3 linked regions of the Homo sapiens genome follow. The protein of the gene in region 3 purifies or fractionates together with the protein of the main gene of each other region. This does not show direct contact. Each region holds a gene or a part of one and is shown on either strand. Other genes may lie near its edges.

Evidence for each region.
Region 1: the proteins of CAMK1G (region 3) and RFWD3 purify together in Homo sapiens (affinity purification with mass spectrometry; 2 studies listed by BioGRID and IntAct, with this or other methods). This does not show direct contact.
Region 2: the proteins of CAMK1G (region 3) and ZBTB44 purify together in Homo sapiens (affinity purification with mass spectrometry; 2 studies listed by BioGRID and IntAct, with this or other methods). This does not show direct contact.

What each region holds. Positions count from the first base shown.
Region 1 is NC_000016.10:74,663,852-74,671,062, forward strand, and holds the start of RFWD3 (E3 ubiquitin-protein ligase RFWD3), read right to left. Parts: upstream 3,027-7,211; 5' UTR 2,935-3,026; intron 1,430-2,934; exon of another isoform or gene 1,382-1,429; intron 895-1,381; exon of another isoform or gene 773-894; intron 650-772; exon of another isoform or gene 1-649. UniProt on the Homo sapiens protein: E3 ubiquitin-protein ligase required for the repair of DNA interstrand cross-links (ICL) in response to DNA damage. Plays a key role in RPA-mediated DNA damage signaling and repair.
Region 2 is NC_000011.10:130,234,892-130,241,917, forward strand, and holds part of ZBTB44 (zinc finger and BTB domain-containing protein 44), read right to left. Parts: intron 5,006-7,026; coding exon 4,921-5,005; intron 3,717-4,920; coding exon 3,553-3,716; intron 2,203-3,552; coding exon 1,902-2,202; intron 1,326-1,901; exon of another isoform or gene 1,219-1,325; intron 1-1,218. UniProt on the Homo sapiens protein: May be involved in transcriptional regulation.
Region 3 is NC_000001.11:209,607,699-209,614,450, forward strand, and holds the end of CAMK1G (calcium/calmodulin-dependent protein kinase type 1G), read left to right. Parts: intron 1-159; coding exon 160-235; intron 236-1,281; coding exon 1,282-1,394; intron 1,395-2,152; coding exon 2,153-2,231; intron 2,232-3,766; coding exon 3,767-3,854; intron 3,855-4,093; coding exon 4,094-4,518; intron 4,519-5,086; coding exon 5,087-5,177; 3' UTR 5,178-5,214; intron 5,215-5,341; 3' UTR 5,342-6,241; downstream 6,242-6,752. UniProt on the Homo sapiens protein: Calcium/calmodulin-dependent protein kinase belonging to a proposed calcium-triggered signaling cascade. In vitro phosphorylates transcription factor CREB1.

The DNA of each region.
Region 1 (7,211 bases), on a different chromosome or scaffold from region 3:
GTAAAAACCAGGTACCACAAAAGGCAATATTGAAAGATGGCGCTAAAAGAGAAGGGCTGGTTAAAAGCCAGTAAAGCAGTTAGCTTGACTCCTACTCAAACACCAGCCAGCTAAAACAAAACACAGAACAAAGCCCTTCTCCCCCTATGCACGAGAAAACTGGAGGTTTGAACCACACAGGCTTACACTCAGGATGGAGAGTGGCACAGTACTGAAAATAAGTGGGAAAGAAAGTCTGCAAACTGAACAATGTGAGATACTTCAAGTTTTAAACATTTTTTGTATAGATGGGGTTTCCCACGTTGCCTAGGCTGGTCTTCAACTCCTCGGCTCAAGCAACCCTTCTGCCTCAGCCTCCCAAAGTGCTGGGATTACAGGAGTGAGCTACTGCAGCTGCCTAACTAAAAGCTTTTAATGTTTCTAGGGTACAACGACAGTCTCCCAAGAATTGTGTGTCAGAACATAAGGCCCAAGCTACTTCTAGATGTACTCAAGAGACATTAAGCAACTCAGCCTTCAGGAAGACAAAGGGGAGAAATGGACTAAAAAGAGCAGAATCTAGGGGGCCGCACTGTCTACTCCCATATGGTTATTTAAATTAAATAAAAATCAAATTCGGCCAGGAGCTGTGGCCCACGCCTATAATCCCAGCACTTTGGGAGACTGAGGCAGGTAGCTGGAGACCAGGAGTTGGAGACCAGCCTGGGCAACACGGCAAAACCCCGTCTCTACAAAAAATACAAAAAAATTAGCCAGCCGTGATGGTGTGCACCTGTGGTCCTAGCTACTTGGGAGGCTGAGGCAGGAGAACCCCTTGAACCCGGAGAGTGGAGGTTACATTGAGCCGAGATCACGCCACTGCACTCCAGACCGGGAGAGAGAGTAAGACTCCGTCTAAAAAAAGAAAAAAGAAAGAAATAAAATAAGTTCCTTTGTCGTGCAGGTCACATTTCAACTGCTAGAAACACACATAGGGCGGGTGACTCCCATACTGGACAGCAGAAATACAGAACACTTTTCTCGTCGCACAAAGTTCTATGGAACGGTGCAGTTCTGGAGCTGAAGCTTCCTAACCACTGTAGGCCAGTCGGAGGTGCCTAGAACGAGAGACCATGGGCTGGGCACCCCAAACCTTGAGGATGTCACACAAACGCTGTTTTTTATGTGTGCTGTGAGCGGTGCTTAAAATGTCAACCTCAGACTTGTCATCTTTGTTACTCAGGTTTCAATCAATGGCCACAACAGGCAGGACGAAAGCCCCTCAATTAAAGGTTGAGAAGAGGTGGGCGGGGGAAGTGTTCAAATCTTTGCTCTGGCCGGTGCAGAGGGTCACGCCTGTGATCCCTGGACACTGAAATGCCCAGGCGGATGGATCACTTACGCTCTGGTGTTCCAGACCAGCTTGGGCAACACAGTGAAATTCCCATCTCTACCAAAAAAGAAAAATAGAACAGGTCAGGCGCGGTGGCTCACACCTGTAATCCCAGCACTTTGGGAAGCCGAGGGCAGACCACTTGAGGTCGGAGTCCCAGAATGGCCAATATGGTGAAACCCCGTCTCCACTAAAAATACAAAAACTACCCGGGTGTGGTGGCGCATGCCTGTAATCCCAGCTACTTGGGAGGCTGAGGCAGGAGAATCGCTTGAACCCGGGAGGCAGAGGTTGCAGTGAGCCGAGATCGCACCACTGCACTCCAGCAGGGGCAACAAAGCGAGACTCTATCTCAAAAAAAGAAAGAAAAAAGAAAAATAAAACAATGAGCCGGGCGTGGTGGCGCGCACCTGTGGTCCCAGCTATTGCGGGAAGCCGAGGTGGGAGGATCCCTGGGGCCCGGGAGTTCGAGACTGCAGTGAGCTCTTCCAGCCTGGGTGCAACAGGGAGACTTTTCTTTCTTTCTTTCTTTCTTTTTTTGAGATGGAGTTTCACTCTTGTTGCCCAGGCTGGAGTGCAATGGCGTGATCTCAGCTCACTGCAACCTCGGCCTCCCGGGTTCAAGCGATTCTCCTGCCTCAGCCTCCCGAGTAGCTGGGAAATGGGGTTTCTCCATGTTGGTCAGGCTGGTCTCGAACTCCTGGCCTCAGGTGATCCGACTGCCTCGGCCTCCCAAAGTGCTGGGATTACAGGCCTGAGCCACCGCTTTTCTCTTTATAACACCTTTTTCTCTTTATAACAGGAAAAAGGGAGGAAGAGAGAGGGAGAGGGAGAGGCGGAGGGGGAAGAGGAGGGAGAGGGAGACGGGAGGGGAAGGGAGAGAGGGAAAGAAGGAAATTAAATCCCTGTTCTTTTACTACATGGGGAAAGAAAGACATAGATAGATTAGATAGACAGATTAGATAGATAGATAGATAGATAGATAGATAGATAGATAGATTGATTAGATACATAGATATTAAATCCCTGTTCTTTTACTACATGGGGAAACTTTGGGCGGGTTTCCTAAACTCGGCTCAACTTGTTCTCCTGTAAAACAGGGATAATACAAGTCTTTACTCCACAGTTTCCGTGATGAAATTAAAAATGAAGTTCTTCCATCAACTTTAAAGTGATGAAGTAATCGGCGCTCAGAGCGGGCGCAGGCAACGCCGCTGAGGAGCCCGAGGCTAGGCTCTCGGGGGAAGGGCCGGGCGACCTCCCACCCCGGCCAGGGCAGGCCCCGCAGCAGCGAACTCGGCTCCTTCAGTGATCGCCCCGAGCTCTCGCCTGCCCAGCCCCCACGCCCAGCAACCCAGATACGCGCGGGGGTTCGGGCTCCTTAGCCCCGACCACTGGCGCCGCCCCGAGGGCCCGAATCCCCTCAGGCCGCCGGGTTCCAAGCCCGCGTGCAGCCCACCTCGTGGGGTGTCTCCTGAATCCCAATCCAGGAATCAGGCGTGGGGAGGTTTATCCCGAAGCTAGAGGCCCAAGGCCTGAGGAGAAGCAACACCCCTCCTCACCTGAAACCAGCAGGCCGCGGCCGGGCTCGCGAGCCCGCCGAAGACTCGGTAGTTACCTCGGCCGCACTCCGAATGCACCTACGCCAACTGCCACTTCCGGAGCCGCTCAAGCTCCCGCCAGAGCCGCCGGCAGGCATGCTCCTATTGGACAGAAGCCCTACGCTGTGGCCAATACCCACTCTTCTTCTTCAATGGGTCCCCCGATAGCTGAAGCAGCGGTGCTCTCATTGGCTGGTAGTTCGTCCTGACGAGGCGGGACCGCGCTTGAGGAAGCCTCCTACAATTGGCAGGAATCTACGTCCGTCACCTTGCACCCGCCCCGGAAAAAATGGGAGGTTTTTTTGTTTTTTTTTTGTTTGGTTTTTTTTTTTTTTTTTAGCGCGTTTTATTTGAACTTTCTGGCGGGAGAAAGTTATATGATTTCTCGGTCCATTTTGGAATGGGGATGATGATATTAAAACTGACTCCTGCTGCTTATCCCTAACGCTTTAGTGAAGGAGTTATCTGTATCCAAAGGATAGCAGCTAATCGAATAATTTCAAAATATTTCAATATTTTGAATTTCGGAGCCTGTAAAGAGGCGTAGGACAGTCCAGTTCATATGTATCCTCTCATGGGGTTGAAGAGCTCACGCAAAATACTTTGCCTACATAATCTCTTCAATCTCAAACCGCTGCAAGGGATCTGAGCTACTGAACAGTCTCAAATCACTTGTTAGGGCCGCCGCTCGCCGCCAGCGCCAAAAGAAAGGGGCCCCCGGAATTCTCCAGCTACGTACGAGGAGCGCGAGCCCACAGCCGTCTCGGCTCCGAGCCCGCCGCCGGCAGGAAAGCCACAAAGAAAACTGATAAACCCAGACAAGATGATAAAGACGATCTAGATGTAACAGAACTCACTAATGAAGATCCTTTGGATCAGCTTGTGAAATACGGAGTGAATTGTGGTCCTATTGTGGGAACAACCAGGAAGCTGTATGAGAAATAGCTTTTGAAACTGAGGGAGCAAGGAACAGAATCAAGATCGTCTCCTTCAGCAACAATTTCTTCTTCAGCAGAAAATACAAGGCAGAATGGAAGTAATGATTCTGACAGATATGGTGAAAATGAAGAAGACTCTAAATTGGGCTCAAGTTTGAGAAGAGAGAACCGCTAAACAGGGGAGTAAAGACTCCAGTAACCCTCAAGCAAAGAAGAGTTGAGCACAAGGAGAGCTATTCTCAAGCTGGAATAACTGGGACTGAATGGACAAGTGGATCTTCAAAAGGCGGACCTCTGCAGGCATTATTAACTAGGGAATCTACAAGAGGGTCAAGAAGAACTCCAAGCAAAAGGGTGCACGCTTCAGAATATTTTCGTATAGATGGAGCAGTAATTTCAGCGAGTACTCCCATAGCTGAAACTATAATTGCTTCAAACAACGAATCCTTAATTGTCAATAGGGTGACTGGAAATTTCAAGCATGCATTTCCTATTCTGCCAGTCACTGAATTCTCAGACATACCCAGAAGAACACCAAAGAAACCATTGACAAGAGCTGAAGTGGGAGAAAAAAAACACAGGAAAGAAGAGTAGAAAGGGATATTCTTAAGGAAATGTTCCCCTATGAAGCAACTACACCAACAAGAATTAGTGCTAGTTGCCGCAGAACAATCAAAGGAGCTGCAGGCCGGCCATTAGAACTCAGTGATTTGAGGATGGAGGAGTCGTTTTCATCTACATATGTTCCTAAGTATGTTCCCTTGGCAGACGTCAAGTGAGAAAATACAAAAAAAAGGGACGCTCCATTCCTGTATGGATAAAAATTTTGCTGTTTGTTGTTGTGGCAGTTTTTTTGTGTGTGTTTGGTCTATCAAGCTATGGAAACCAACCATGTAAATCCCTTCTCTAATATTCTTCCTGATGACTCTAGAAAACCCAACTGAATGGTATCTCTTTGGCACATTCAACTTGGTCTTGTATTTTTAGTAACTGTGTTGAAGAACATTCGTGTACGCTTTTTGACTCCAAGAACTAAAAATAATGTGATTTTGCCTCAATAAACGTAGTATTCCATTGGAAAGCAAACAAAAGATATATGAATGGACTTTATTAAAATGTTTTTGAACTTTGGACTAGTAGGAGATCACTTTGTGCCATATGAATAATCTTTTTTAGCTCTAGAACTTTTTTTTTTTTAGACAGGGTCTCGCTCTGTTGCCCAGGCTGGAGTGCAATGGCATGATTTCGGCTCACTGCAACCTCCACCTCCTGGGTTCAAGTGATTCTCCTGCCTCAGCCTCCTGAGTAGCTGGGATCACAGGCACGTGCCACTACGCCCACCTAATTTTTGTATTTTTAGTAGCGGTGGGGTTTCACTATGTTGGCCAGGCTGGTCCTGAACTCCTGACCTCAGGTGATCCACCCGCCTTGGCCTCCCAAAGTGCTGGGATTATAGGCGTGAGCCACCGCGCCCGGCCATAATGTTCATGATCTTGATAGAGTTTGGATTACTCATATGTATGCATTTGTCAAAACTCATCAAATGCTATCTTTAAGATTTGTGCATTTCACACAAATTTTTCACAGCAAAAACTTACCTTCCCACCCCCCCGCCAAAAAAAAGCTCATAGAGAGATAAACTCCAGTTAATGGCATAAATGCTGAAGTGTTTAGGAATGAAGTGCATAAAAAATCAGGATGAATTAATGGCTAGAAAGAGGCACAAGCAGATAAATAGGTATGTGATAAAACAAATATAATAAATTGTTAGTTGTAGAATTTAGGTGGTAGGTATATGGTTGTTCAGAGTACAATTGTACTGACTTTTCTGTGTATCTGGAAATTTTCATACATAAGTGTTGGGAAAAATCAGGTACAGGGCCTTGGAAGGCATCCTGTGCAAGTAAAAGGCCCTGAAGATTAAGCTTTATCAGGCTTATAGTAAATTCACCTATAATAATTGTGGGTCTGCCAGAGTATGAATAATTCATCTACCAGGGAGAATTTTCACTGTAACTCCTACAGTAAATAGAACAAATGATTTTAAAGATGAAAACAGTGGCTGGGCATGGTGGCTCATGCCTGTAATCCCAGCACTTTGGGAGGACAAGGTGGGCGGATCCCTTGAGGTCAGGAGTTCCAGACCAGCAGACCCTGCCTCTGAAAAAAAAGAAAAAAGAAAAAAGGAAGGAAGGAAAATAGTAAAATAGTAATACCTGCCAGTAAGTTCTACAAAATAATCATATTAAGTTTATATTCTTCTGCATTTTTTATTTATAGAAAAAAACCATGTTCTAGGTTTTAAAAAAATCAAGGATAAGTAAAAGATAAAAACATAAGGCCGAGTGTGGTGGCTTATGCCTGTAATCCCAGCACTTTGGGAGGCCAAGGTGGGAGTATCACTTGCGCCCAGAAGTTCAAGACTAGCCTAGGCAACACAGTGAAACCCTGTCTCATAATAATAATAATAATAGTAATAGAAATCAGCCATAATTTTCTTCACCAGAGATGATTACTAGAATACAAGACCCAAATGTATTTTTATTGCTGTCTTCTCAGTGATTGAAACAATGGACAGCACATTTGCTGTTGAATGATTTAGAATGAGTTCTGAAAAAAATGTAACTTTAAAGACAGGGATTAGTGTATCCTAGGCAAAGCACACACCATGAACAAAGGTATAAGATCTAAAATGAGACCAGGTGTGGTGGCTCATGTCTGTAACCCCAGCACTTTGGGAGGCCGAGGTGGGCAGATCACTTGAGGTCAGGAGTTCGAGACCAGCCTGACCAACATGGTGAAATGCTGTCTCTACTAAAAATACAAAAATTAGCCAGGTGTGGTGGCACACACCTGTAATCCCAGACACTTGGGAGGCTGAGACAGGAGAATCGCTTGAACCTGCAAGGCGGAGGTTGCAGTGAGCCGAGATTGCGCCACTGCACTCCAGCCTGGCCAACAAGAGTGAAACTCTAGGCCGGGCGCGGTGGCTCACACCTGTAATCCCAGCACTTCAGGAGGCCGAGGCGGGTGGATCACCTGAGGTCAGGAGTTCGAGACCAGCCTGACCAACATGGTGAAACCCCCATCTCTACTAAAAAATACAAAAAGTTAGCCGGGTGTGATGGTGAGCACCTGTAATCCCAACTACTTAGGAGGCTGAGGCAGGAGAATCGCTTGAACCCAGGAGGCAGAGGTTCCAGTGAGCCAAGATTGCACCACTGCACTCCAGCCTGGGCGTGACAGAGCAAGACTCCGTCTTAAAAAAAGAAATCTAGAATGAAAGCACCACAAACATGG
Region 2 (7,026 bases), on a different chromosome or scaffold from region 3:
TGGTCCCCACAGGCAACATGGACAGTAAAATATACTAAAAACAGTGGCTACTTTCCTTAAGTGATGAAATAGAAAATATTTTAAATTTCTTCTTCATACTTTTCTGTATTTCCTAAATTTCCTACTTATAAGCATCTTTTGGTAATTGAAACTAAGTATGTGAAATAAGTCTTATCTTAGAGGCTTTATTTAAATCTTTATTACTGAACTAAGAACTTCATTATACCATAATTGTCAATAATATATGTACTTAGACTTGATAAGGTTATTTTATAATTTCATTGTTCAGTATTAATAAAAAATTAAAATCTGTTCATCTGCAAAGTAATTTAGAATGCCCTATGTTATATTTTCTAAAAAGTCTTCATTCAGGTGTTAGAGAAGAAGAATGGAGAATACAGGGCTCTGTACAGGGACGATAAAGATAACATGAGTAGTTAACAGGAACACTATTTTAGTCCTGAACAAACTATGTTTAATATGATATGTATAACCTAAGGTTTAGTGATATGGCAACCACACATTCAGAATTAGAGATGACTGCATTAAACAAAATGAATGTCTGGTTTGAAGGGAAAAACAAAATCTACGCAGGAATAATTTGGAATTTGTTTACAAATAAGGTTTTAAGTCAGGGGTGGTGCCCACACTTGTAGCCCCAGCAGGAGAACTGCTTGACCTCAGGAGTTCGAGGCTGCAGTGCACTATGATTGTGTCTATGAACAGCCACTGCACTTCAGCCTGGGCAACACTGCAAGACCCTATCTATTCAATTAAAAAAAAAAAAGGTTTTAAAAATAAGGGTGATTTAAAATGTAAAGATTTGGGCTGGGCATGGTGGCTCACGCCTGTAATCCCACAGCACTTTGGGAGGCTGAAGCAGGCGGATCACTTGAGGTCAGGGGTTCGAGATCAGACTGGCCAACATGGTGAAACCCCATCTCTACTAAAAATACAAATATTAGCTGGGTGTAGTGGTGGGCACCTGTAATCCCAGCTACTCAGGAGGCTGAGGTTGCAGTAAGCCGAAATCGTGCCACTGCATTCCAGCCTGGGTGACAGTGAGACTCCATCTCAAAAAAAAAAAAAAGAAAGATTTGTAAAAATTTCATTTTATGAGAAACTAAGGATTCCTACAGAAGTACAATTCTTATAAACAATTTAAAACAACAGTTTTATATCTAGAGAAGGCCTTAGAAACCATCGTTTAAAGCTTACATTTTATCTTTCTCTAAGTTTCAAGCTTTTTCATGTGTAAAGTGACAGGTTTAATCAACAGCAGTTAGTGGCAGAGCTAGATCTAGAAGCTGATTTCCTGGGATGCCCTATAAATCAGAAAGGTAATTCTATTATAAATTAATATTACAAGAATAGAGCTCTAAACTGAATGAAAATAGCAATGACTTCATGATCTAAACCATCACACCCACTATAGTTGCCTTTGAAATTTTTCTTACTGGCCAATGGCTATTCCTTTATATAGAATATTTTTAAATAGAGAGAAGTGGTAAAGAATTTTATTAACATCTAGAGTCTGGAGTAATCCAGTATCACTAAGCATCATCTGACATGGTAAAATTTCCAGTAAGATCTATTTAAGGTCCATTACAGAATTACTTAAACCTTGTATTATTTAAAAAATATCTCAAGAGGACAAGTAGTCTACTTCTGCAGGAAAATATTTTTAATACCAACTATAAAATGTTTATAATTTTATATACGTAGAAGACTCAGCAAAATTTTATCAGATCAGGAGATTAGAGTATGAACAGTGGGAATCCGTAACAAATGTGACTGACTAGCTGGCAACCTGATGTAAAAACACAGAAGGCTGCCCTAAAAGCAGGAAAAGAGAGTTTAGAAAGCAGTTTTCCTGGTTGGGTTTTCGTTGTGCACCTCACCTGCTCTGGAAGTAGTTTGCTAGCTCTGATGCTTCATGGTTCAGACTCCTCAGGTGCACGATTAAATTTCCAGAGTTGGTGAACATGGCGCCACATGTTTTGCACTCGTAAATCCGAGGCTTGCGGATAATGTGCCGGGAAACCCTCATGTGGTGTTTATATTCCCCGAAGGAAGTGAAAGTGGCACTACATATCTGGCACCGGAAACAGCGTTTACCTTCATGCTTTAGGCGATGCATCTTTAGCGAGTAAGCCCTGGTGAACTTTTTCCCACAGCGGTCACACTGAAATGGTTTAATTCCTGTAAATAAAGCAAAACAAAATATCTAAAAACAAAAATAAACTGAAAAGTCATAAACCCTACAAATTTCTGAACTATATTTCTGTAGCAACAGATCATCTGAAAAGGCAAGAATTACCAGCAAAAACATATTCTAATTGAGTATCTCAGAAAATGTGCAGAATATGTGAAAAGTCACAAGTGCTTAAAAAGGAAAAGAAAAAAAGGCAGTAGGGGAGGCAAACTAGGTAACGTCTACTGAAGCTGATTTTTGAATGCTTTTCTAGATCATCTATTTTACTAACTTCAAAACACAATTTAACTACAGTATGTAGACAGAACCCAAATCCCCACTAACAGCACATATTATTTCATTTCATTAGAGGTTTACATTGAACGGATATGAAAATCATCAGTACCTACTCTCTGTTCCCTATCTCACAGAGAAACGAGAAGAAAGAACAATTTTAACATCTCTGAATGTAATGAGCATGACAGAACCATCATTTGATATAATGGGTTTTTTTGGGTAATATGATGTAATATTGATAGAAATAAATGAGTTATAAAGTGTATTAATAGTCTCCTCAAATTCATTATCACAGTGTTTTGGGGAAAAAATTTTAAAACCTTTCAAAACACAGTCTACGGATTGAACAAAGTCACAGAGAATTGGTGCTAGGACAGGGACTGTAAGACCTATCTACAGAAGGGGAAAGTGAGATAGTAACTCACGCAGCTGAAAACAGCAGCAAAGATCTCTTACTCGTCAGAGGTCAGTGTTTTACCCACAAGAATCCTGTTGCCTTCATGTGATTACTGAACTAAAATTTCAAATCCCCTCTATACATTTATCCAAAATCTCTGTTATGTTTAAAAAAATACAAACTACAAAGCTGACTCATCAGGGCACACAGAGATTTAGGACTGTAGAATTGAAAGTAAATTAGCAAGAAAATATTACATTTTTAAACACACTTTTATTTGGGAAAAATTTCAAACTTAAAGAGACATTATAAGAAGAACAGCACAAAGAACACCCATACAGACCCTTTTAACCCTATTTGCTTTACCATCTGTGTTTGTGATTCTCTATCTCACCTCTATGTGCACACCTAATATGTCTTTTTATTTACAAAGTACTCACTCCATATCACCTTATGTTCTTTTAATCAGAATACTCAACACCCGTGGCAAGCAGCTTTCTGACACTGCATCATTTCAGCAATAAACCTTAGCTAATCTGTTTTCATTTGACTTCCCAGAGTTTTTTTTAAAACTCAGAAGCCCCTGTTTTCTATTTTAACTGGGACTGCAAAATAAAATGTTTTAGAGCGTTCACTTACGCACCAACAGGGAAGGTGACATTACCTGAGTGGATGAGCATGTGCTGCTTTAGGTTCTGAATACGGGTGAATCGCACCCCGCAGGTTGGACACTGAAAAGGTCTGTCGGGACCATTTGGACTTGGTCGCTCTGTACTGCTGGTGGAAGGAGCAATGTAGAGTTGGTAGGGATACTGAACATTTTCCAATCTAAAAAAAACAGACCAAAGAAGGCAACCAGGCTCTGATTTTTAAACTGAATAAACACTGCTATAGGTCAATTTTAAATGAAAAAAGATAAAACACTTAAAGACTTTTTGAAACAGTTTAACTGTTAGACTTCAAGTTTTACTTTAACAATATGAAAAACAATGTTAATGTCCAGAATGCCTTTTGTTTTTTTTTTTTATTTTTTGAGACGGAGTTAGGCAGAAGTCATATCGTGTAGGGCTTTAGAAGGCATAGCAAGGCCTATAGATTTTAGGTATGAATAAAGAATGTTAAGAATCTATAGCTTAAAACAGTGACATAATCTGACTTAATTAAAAAAGAAAAGATGATTTTGGCTGCTACATGGAAAATGGATTAGGGGAAGAATGCAATCAGAGGCTACTTTGAAGGTTATTGCAGTAGTCAAGGCAAAAGATGGTGGTGACTTAGAGTAGGGTGGCTACAGTACAGATTAGAAAAGTAGACAGGGATATATTTTATAGGCAGAGTTGACAGGACTTAAGGATTAACTACGAGGGAGATGAAGAGTGGTAAGGAAAAAAGATTAAGAACAATCCTCAGAGATTTTGCTTGAGAAATTAGGGGATAATGATGATGCTTACTGAAATGGGAGAAAGGCTGGAGAAGCAGGATTCAGACAAGGAGTTAGAAATCAAGAGTTCTGTCTTGGCCTTGTTAAATGTGAAATGCCCTTTATACATTTATGTGGAAATATCAAGCAGGGAGGGAGTTATGGGTATACAGATCAGACTTTGGCAGATGTTTTTCACAGCAGTCCGTACAGCACACATTCTGACTTTGCACACCATACAGTCTGTTTCAACCACTCAACTCTGCCATCCACAAACAATATGTCAGCAAATGAGCCTGGTTGTGTTCCAGTAATACTTGATTTACAAATAAAGGTGGTAGGCTGGAATTGGCCTGTGGTTCATAGTTTGCCAACACTTGGTACAGATACGATTTAAAGCAATGGGACTAGGTAGTTTTGGAAATGCTGGGGAAAAAAAAAAGCCTTGTATAGGTACTCTAATTTATAATGTGATGATGCTACTTCATTACTTTGAAAAGTATACTGAAGTGAGGTTGTAATAAACTTCTACAACTCTTGAGATGAAATGCTTGAATTTGGAGTTGTAAACACAACCCTTAAGAGGTAACGAAATGCTATGTTAGTACTGACCGATCATCATCATCCGGAGGAGCATTAGTGCTAGACGTGCTTTGAAGTGTAGGCAAGCCCTCAGAAACGCCTTCATCTACTGAGCCTGTGAATAAGAGAAAGAGGACCACTGTAATCCTTTGGTGTGAATAAGCCAAGATTGTAACTGAAAGCTATATTATATCTAAGCCTCTGACATATATTATCTAGTGTTCATATCCTGAATTATTAATCCAAAGTAGTGTTCTACATTTTTTTTTTTTTTTTTTGAGACTGAGTCTCGCTCTGTCGCCCAGGCTGGAGTGCGGTGGCGCGATCTCGGCTCACTGCAAGCTCTGCCTCCTGGGTTTACGCCATTCTCCTGCCTCAGCCTCCCGAGTAGCTGGGACTACGGGCGCCCGACACCACGCCCGGCTCATTTTTTGTATTTTAGTAGAGACAGGGTTTCACTGTGTTAGCCAGGATGGTCTCGATATCCTGACCTTGTGATCCACCTGCCTCGGCCTCCCAAAGTGCTGGGATTACAGGCGTGAGCCACCGCACCCAGCCGTGTTCTATATTTTTAAATGTTTGTGATTTTAAAGAAAAACCACATGTAAGATAATAGTCTTATATTACTATTTAAGTTCTTTTAGAAATATTTCTTTGACACATTTCAGAAAGCAAGCAGGGCAATTCAAAAGCGAACAAAAATCCACATAAAACTGAGTAATTAACCATTTAAGGAAACACTGAAATTCTTATTTTTTAAAACTTATTGAAGACATACAACTTGTTGCACAACTTTTATACAGAATTTAACAGATAAAGTGAACACCCAGGCAACCTCCACACACAAGCCACACGAAAGCACGGCCAGCATCCTGGAAGTCCCCATTCATCCTTCCCTGATCATAAACCCCTCCCTTCTCCAAAAGCTTCTTATGGTTATCATTTTCCTCCTCCCATTCTCTCACTTTTAAAAGTAATTTTATCTTGAATACAAGTATCCATAAGGTAGGTATTCGTTCTTGCTGGAACACAACTTTGGCTGGACTAGGGCTGCTTCTGCCTACAGTGGCAGAGTTTAGTAGCTTTTGGTTGTGACAGAGACCATGTGGCAGTTATGTCTAAAACAGTTATCATTTTGCCTTTAAAGGAAAGTTTGCCAAGGCTTGCCATAAACAATACTTTTTAGTGTTGTCTGGCTGTTTTATATAAACCGGGTCATACTATATGTATTCTTTTGTCTTGCTTCTTTCCTCCAACATTGTGGACTCATCGTTTTTACGTGTAACCAAAGTTTATTTTCATTGTTTATAATATTCATCATTATCCATTTTACTCTTGATGGACAGTTTTTTGGCTATTAAGAACAATGCTGCTGTGAATATCCTTAATGCACATAAGCATGCTTTTCTCCATGGTAAAGACTTAGGAATGGAGGTGGTACATATGTAGGAATGGAATTGCTAGGTCACTGAACACATTTATCTTCAACTTTATTAGAAAATACTAAACTCTTTCCAGAGTGACTGTACTAAATTCACATCACTGCTAGTATATCAGAGTTGTGCTGCTCCATATCCTTACCTCCTTACCAACATTTGGTATTGCTGGATTTTTAAGTTATTACCACTGGTTTTTAAAATTATTACCAACCTGGTGTATGTCTTACAATATTTCATGGTGGTTTGAATTGCATTTCCCTTATAACTACTGGGGTGAATCTAGTGTCACATATTTACGGAATCTCCCTTCCTCCCTCTTTTGTGAAATGCCAGAGTTGTCTGCCTTTTTAGCATAAGAGTTCTTTTCACAATTTGTATATAAGCCCTTGGTCAGTGATACATACTACAAATATCTTTCCCCATCCCATGGCTTTTTTTTTCACCCTTTCTAATGGCTTCTTCTGATGAACAAAGTTTAACATTTTAATTTAATTAATCCTTTTCTCATTGTTATGGCTTTTTGGTCTTGTTTTTAAAAAATCTTTCCCTGTCTGAAATTATCTTATGAAAAGTATCATGTTTTGTGCCTTATGTTTTTTCTTTAACCCATTGGAGTTGACTTTGTGACCGAATGTCATGAAAGGTCTGCCTTCTCTGCTCTGCAGTGCCTCCTGTGTTGTATGTCATGTATAAATAC
Region 3 (6,752 bases):
AGAGACACAGCCCCTACCCTTAGGGAGTTTTCAGTCTCCTAGAAACCCCACCATCCCACAGTCTTCCCCAGACCTCTTCTCTAAGCCTGGCCTTCAGCTCCCACCCCAAAGCCCTCTCCTCTTGCCACCAGCCCTGACTCTGCCCTTGGTCTGCTGCAGCTCCAGAAGTGCTGGCCCAGAAACCCTACAGCAAGGCTGTGGATTGCTGGTCCATCGGCGTCATCACCTACATATTGTGAGTAGACGCTGGCCTGGGTTCAGCTGATGAGAAGTCTCGGAGCCTGCTTACCCCTTCTCGTTCCCTCCCCTGTCTCAGCTCCTCCTCCAAGCACGTGCATGTGCACAAACAGACACAGGCACAGGGGCACACGGGTACACACACACACACACACACACACATACATGTACACACAGCTTAAAAGCTTCCTCTCTCTTCACCTCCACCAAGTTTTAAAACAGAGCTCAGCGTGAATCCACTGCACAGCCACCTGGCACTCCCTCCTCTTGCACCCCTGCCCCTTTTACTGCCTATAAATGTGTTGCATCCCACTCAGTGGAATGAACAGTGAAAAAGAGAGAGGCCAAGCCAGGCTTGGAAGCCAGGTGGACCCTCTGTTCCTACATCTCAGCTTTCCCAAGGCAAAACTGTGGCCTGGATAAAGCTGGTCAGGGCCTTTCCTTTTCGCTCCTCTCCACACATTCCCAAGCTCTCCCTTTCCTAACCTGCCCATCACCTCTTCCCCACCATCCCTCCTCACCTATAGCAAACTTTGCTCTTAGGAAAATAACCTGGTTTCAATTATCTCCTCCATTTATGTTGAATAAGTACTCTCATTTATTTACCCAACCAATATTCACTGCCTATCTACTCTGCATCTATCCCTGTGCTAGGTTCTAAAGAATCCCGCAGTGAACAACACAGCCTAAATAAATCCTTCATCAAGCTTACATTCAAGTAGACAGTCTACCAACTTTCTTAAACATATTTTATATAGCATTCATAAGTCAGGGAAAGTATAAGGAGAGGTGGCAAGGGTTGGAGGGCATAATGTACACAGGGACCTTCTAGGGATGACTGTGCCAAGGCTTGGCACTTGCATAAACACTTTACGGGACCTGTACCATTCTGGAATTTGAGGCAGATCTGCGTCCTGGTCACACCACTGTTCTGGGACCTTCAGTGCCCACCTGTGTATACAGTGGGAGCTTGGGGGAGCAGAGAGGCTGGCTCAGGGAGGACAGGTTTGTTCAGTAGTATGCCTCCTTCCTGTCCTGCTGCAGGCTCTGTGGATACCCCCCATTCTATGAAGAAACGGAGTCTAAGCTTTTCGAGAAGATCAAGGAGGGCTACTATGAGTTTGAGTCTCCATTCTGGGATGACATTTCTGAGTCAGGTAAGGCCAGTAGGCATGAAGGAGAGATAACAGGCTCAAGGTAGAGGCTGCCAAGAGAAATGAGCTTAACAAAGGATGACAGTCCCGGCTCTTCAAAGTCCCTGGGGATCTTACAGAACAGGCTGCCAAGGAAAGTGGAGAAATCTTCGTCTGCTTCAAAGACCCGATAAATTATTTACATCTAAGAGCTATGCTTTTGTTTTTCTGGAGGCAGAACCACAGTATGCCTGAAAAGGAGATGGGGGGGCAGTTTAGAAGATGGGCCAGGAGGGCAGAGCCAGGTGGTGAGGGGAGAGTTCCAGACAAGAGCAGCAAAACTAAGGGGTTAGATATCAAGAAAGAGCATGCAATGTCTATGTGTGAGAGAAGATGATCATTACGTGATTGTTGGACCTGTTAAGTGGAAATCAGAGCTGGAACAATCCAGCACTCACATGCGTGCCCATGTGCCAGCGCTGGCCCCTGTTTCAGTGCAAACACATGCACATGTGATGTGCAGGCACATGGGGGCCTTGTGACTAGTGACGCTTCTGCAGTGCTGTGTGGGTGAGGCGGCTTGGAGCTTCCCTTCTTTGGTGGTTTATGGTGGGTTGTTGTTAGGTGGTTTGGATTTTTTTTCCTCTTCTAAGACTCTTAAAATTGCCTCTTTGGAAGATCAGCTAAAGATGCATTCACTGCCACCCACCAGCCCGGAAGTGAATTTCCATCAGTCATGAAATCTGGTCCTTAGTCGTCGTGTCTTTGATTACTCCCCTTAGCCAAGGACTTTATTTGCCACTTGCTTGAGAAGGATCCGAACGAGCGGTACACCTGTGAGAAGGCCTTGAGTCATCCCTGGTGAGTGAGACATGGAGTGGACTCTAGACCCCAGCCCTGTAGTTCCCAAAACCATGCTGACTCATTCATATTGCATTTCCCTGGAATCTGCTTGTCCTGATCCATTTAATGATGTGACAAGCAAGGACCATGCCATTGTTCATCAGGCCCAGGTAGAGATTCAAACATTATACAGTGGAGCAGGTTCTAATGCAAGGGTAGCAGCTGGGTTGTCTGGTCAAGTGCAGGAGGCAGGTGCAGCCGAGCGCTGTCATTCAGCACTGGGATAGGGTGCAATGTTCAGTACTAGTTATTCAAGAAGTGCCAGGAATGGGCAACTCTGTCCTGTCCTTTAGAGCTTTGTTTTACTCAGGGATCAATAACTGTTCCAGGTGAAGTGATTTAAGAACAACTGCAAAGCAACCGATTGGCAAAATAGGAAAAAGAAAATCTTAAAATATTTTTTCATGTTACTTCCCAACTCAATTTACAATAGCTCCCCACTTCATACCCCAGCAAGCCTGGATTCCTTTGTCTTTCCAGTTTCCCTAATATGGCCTGACCCTTTATCTCCAGCCTCTTTTCCCAGGATTGCCAGCATACCTCCTCTGTCCAGATAGGCCTGGGAGCTATATCTGTCTCACCCCACATACCAAGCTCTGTCTTAACTACACCTTGGATCAGATCATTCCCACTACCTACAATGTCCTGCCTCTTGCCCTGTATGTAGCATCTTTCAGGATCCAGATCAGTCTCTGCCCTTCCCTGAAGCCCCTGACCCCTGCAGCCCAACCCAATCTCCCCAGTTCTCTTTATTAATCACACGGCTTACCATGTATTACTGCAGTCCATAGCATGAACAACACCCGACATCTAGACTGTAGGCTCCTAGGGGTCAGGGCCCATGTCTCTTACTTCTCGAGGTCTATTAGTAGTTGGCACAGTACTATGCACACAGCAAGTGTCTGAGGAACACTTAGAGACCAGTGAATAAGAGGCTAAGGGGATAGGAAAGGGGCAGCCTGTACCAGACGGCCTTACTGAGGAAGGCTTCCAGGAGGAGGTGGGTTCTAGGCAAGGTTTTGAGCTAAAGGATGGTGACTACCCCAGTGCCCTGTGATGCTGGGTCCAATAAACTTTTTCTATAAAGCATCAGATAGTAAATATTTTAGGCTTTCCTGGCCATACTGTCTTTATGGCAACTACTCAACCCTGCTGTCACAGTGCAAAAGGAGCCACAGACAATACCTGAATTAATGGGCACCACTGTGTCCCCATAAAACCTTATTTACAAAAACAGGCAATAGGTCGATTTGGCCTATAGGCTATAGCTTGTTGACCTTGCTCTAAAAGTTTTTGATTTTGCCAAAGCTAAAGCCGACTCTTACTTGCCCAGGGGCACAGAGGAGACCTGCTTGCAGCCCTTTCCTGCTGTGGGCTGTCTTTCCTCTGCACACTCTACCCAGCTCTCACCTAGACCTGCAGGCACCCTGCCCACTCCCTGGATGAGTGTAAATAGCCACCCAGTAGCCAGGTGTCCCCTCTTACATCCACAGGATTGACGGAAACACAGCCCTCCACCGGGACATCTACCCATCAGTCAGCCTCCAGATCCAGAAGAACTTTGCTAAGAGCAAGTGGAGGGTAAGCTGTCCTCTCCAGGGGGTGGGAAAGCTGTTCTGGGCCCCTGGAGGCTGGGCTGGCAGGGGCTGACATAAGGGCTTTCCTTGGGATGTCCCAGAAGGCATTGGAGCTCCGTGTACCCTCTCTGAAATGAGAAGTGGGCACCCAGGTTTCAAGAGGCCACAAGGCAAAGGGAAAGTTTAAGCTCCAAGGCCCTCTGAGGTTGCAGAAGGCCAGAGGCTGCTCTTGTGTCTCCTTAGCAAGCCTTCAACGCAGCAGCTGTGGTGCACCACATGAGGAAGCTACACATGAACCTGCACAGCCCGGGCGTCCGCCCAGAGGTGGAGAACAGGCCGCCTGAAACTCAAGCCTCAGAAACCTCTAGACCCAGCTCCCCTGAGATCACCATCACCGAGGCACCTGTCCTGGACCACAGTGTAGCACTCCCTGCCCTGACCCAATTACCCTGCCAGCATGGCCGCCGGCCCACTGCCCCTGGTGGCAGGTCCCTCAACTGCCTGGTCAATGGCTCCCTCCACATCAGCAGCAGCCTGGTGCCCATGCATCAGGGGTCCCTGGCCGCCGGGCCCTGTGGCTGCTGCTCCAGCTGCCTGAACATTGGGAGCAAAGGAAAGTCCTCCTACTGCTCTGAGCCCACACTCCTCAAAAAGGCCAACAAAAAACAGTACGTATTTTTAGCCAAAGATGGAGCCCCAGCTTGGGTCTGAAAGAAATCGGTCAACAGGACTGAAAGAAATGGACACAAAGGCCTCTCCCACTCATAGGCAGCTATATAGGGAGGGATGAGTTCTGGATGAGGGGGCAAGGAAAATGCTTCCAGCCCTGTCCCCATCACTTACTAGTTGTGAGGCCATTGACGAGTCAATGTCTCTGCTTCTATTTTGCTCATCTGTAAACTGGGTTGAAGTCTATTTACCCAATTAGCCTGCCTCACAGAGGTACTATAAAAGGTTAGTGAAGCAACAGAGATGATAAAAGCCCACAGAAAACTGGGTATTTGCAAGTGGTGAGCATCAGATTCCCCGAGTTTCCAGGGCCTCTGTGCTTTGCAGAAGGAAGTGTAGGGGGGCTTGGTTATCTTTATCTTTTCTGCAGGTTCTTGAACTTTCTGAACCTCATGAGGGGAGAGCTGAGTGGATGCCACAGGCACAGAGAACTACCACCTCTGCCCTGCCCCATCGACTCTTCTTCCCTCAAATACTTCAAAGGTTGTTGCTTCATTTCCTTTCTAGGAACTTCAAGTCGGAGGTCATGGTACCAGTTAAAGCCAGTGGCAGCTCCCACTGCCGGGCAGGGCAGACTGGAGTCTGTCTCATTATGTGATTCCTGGAGCCTGTGCCTATGTCACTGCAATTTTCAGGTTAGGAGGGTCACAGTGTGAGGCTTGGGGAGAGTTTCTGTCCCAGAGGAGAGCCCCATGCCAGAGTGTGAGTGATGGGGTCTGAGGTGGCAACCCCCTCCTCACTCTGAGCCCCTTTCTCTTGCAGGAGACATATTCAACTCCTCTGCTCTTCCAAACCTGGTGTCTATCCGGCAGAGGGAGGAAGGCAGAGCAAGTGGAGCAGGGCTTAGCAGGAGCAGTTTCTGGCCAGAAGCACCAGCCTGCTGCCAGCGGGGCAGCCCCTCATAGGAGGCCCAGGAGGGAGCCCCAAGGCGTAGAAGCCTTGTTGAAGCTGTGAGCAGGAGAAGCGGTGCCCACCAGCTTCCAGGTCTCCCTGACCTGCCTGCTCTATGCCCCACACCCTACGTGCCGTGGCTCTGTGCAGTGTACGTAGATAGCTCTCGCCTGGGTCTGTGCTGTTTGTCGTGAAAAGCTTAATGGGCTGGCCAGGCTGTGTCACCTTCTCCAAGCAAAGCCATATGGAGCATCTACCCAGACTCCCACTCTGCACACACTCACTCCCACCTCTCAAGCCTCCAACCTCTTGGCCAGATTGGGCTCATTAATGTCGTTGCCTGCCCATCTGCATGAATGACAGGCAGCTCCCCATGGTGGTCTGCCTGTGAGCTCTTCAAGTTCTAATCCTTAACTCCAGGATTAGCTCCCAAGTGCGCTGAGACCCAGCCAGCACACTTCTGGCCCTTCTCCCTGCCTCAATCTAAAAGCAGTGCCACACCCTCCAAAGTGGAATAGAAAGAAGTTCATGAGTAAGGGCTGCAAGGAATTCTTATCCTGGCCACATGTCCTCCGTGCACACACCCAATGGAGTTAACCTTGGAAGTTGACTATTTTAATGTCTGCCAGGAGTTCTAATCCTGCCTCTGTTCCCTTTTCTCTCCTTGAAAGTCCAGCACACCATTCTTGTCCTTCCCCAGTTTCCTCGCCCTCCACCCCTCCAGCTTCATGCTCAGTGTTGTGCTTAATAAAATGGACATATTTTTCTCTATGAGGCTTCATTTGGTTCTTTCAAAGTCAGGAGCAGTTCAGGGACTTCTGAGCATGTCTGGAGTAGAGAGTGCATGGATGGCTGGGGTCAGCAAGGAACCAGCAGTTGTAGCTGATGTGCATACAGATGTGCATATAGCTGAGTATACAGTGCTCCAGGCACTGGACATGAGTTACATCATTAACTCATTACTTCTCACAACAACCCCTTGGGACAGGTTCTGTTGGAACCGAGGCAGTCTGGCTTTAGTGGCCATTCTCTTAATGGCTCTATTAGATGAGCATGAGTTCGAGCCCCAGCTCTGCCCCGACCTGCCATATCTGTGACCTTGGGGAAGTTACTTAGTCTTTCGTGCCTTGGTTTCCTCACTTATCCAATGGGAATAGCAGTGCCACCTGCATCATGAAATGATGCAGATGATGTGCCCAGCCTCGTGGCCAATAAATAATCAAAATGATTAACAATGATCAAGAAGTTAATGTAGATAAAATGTCTAGCACAGTGCCTGCTT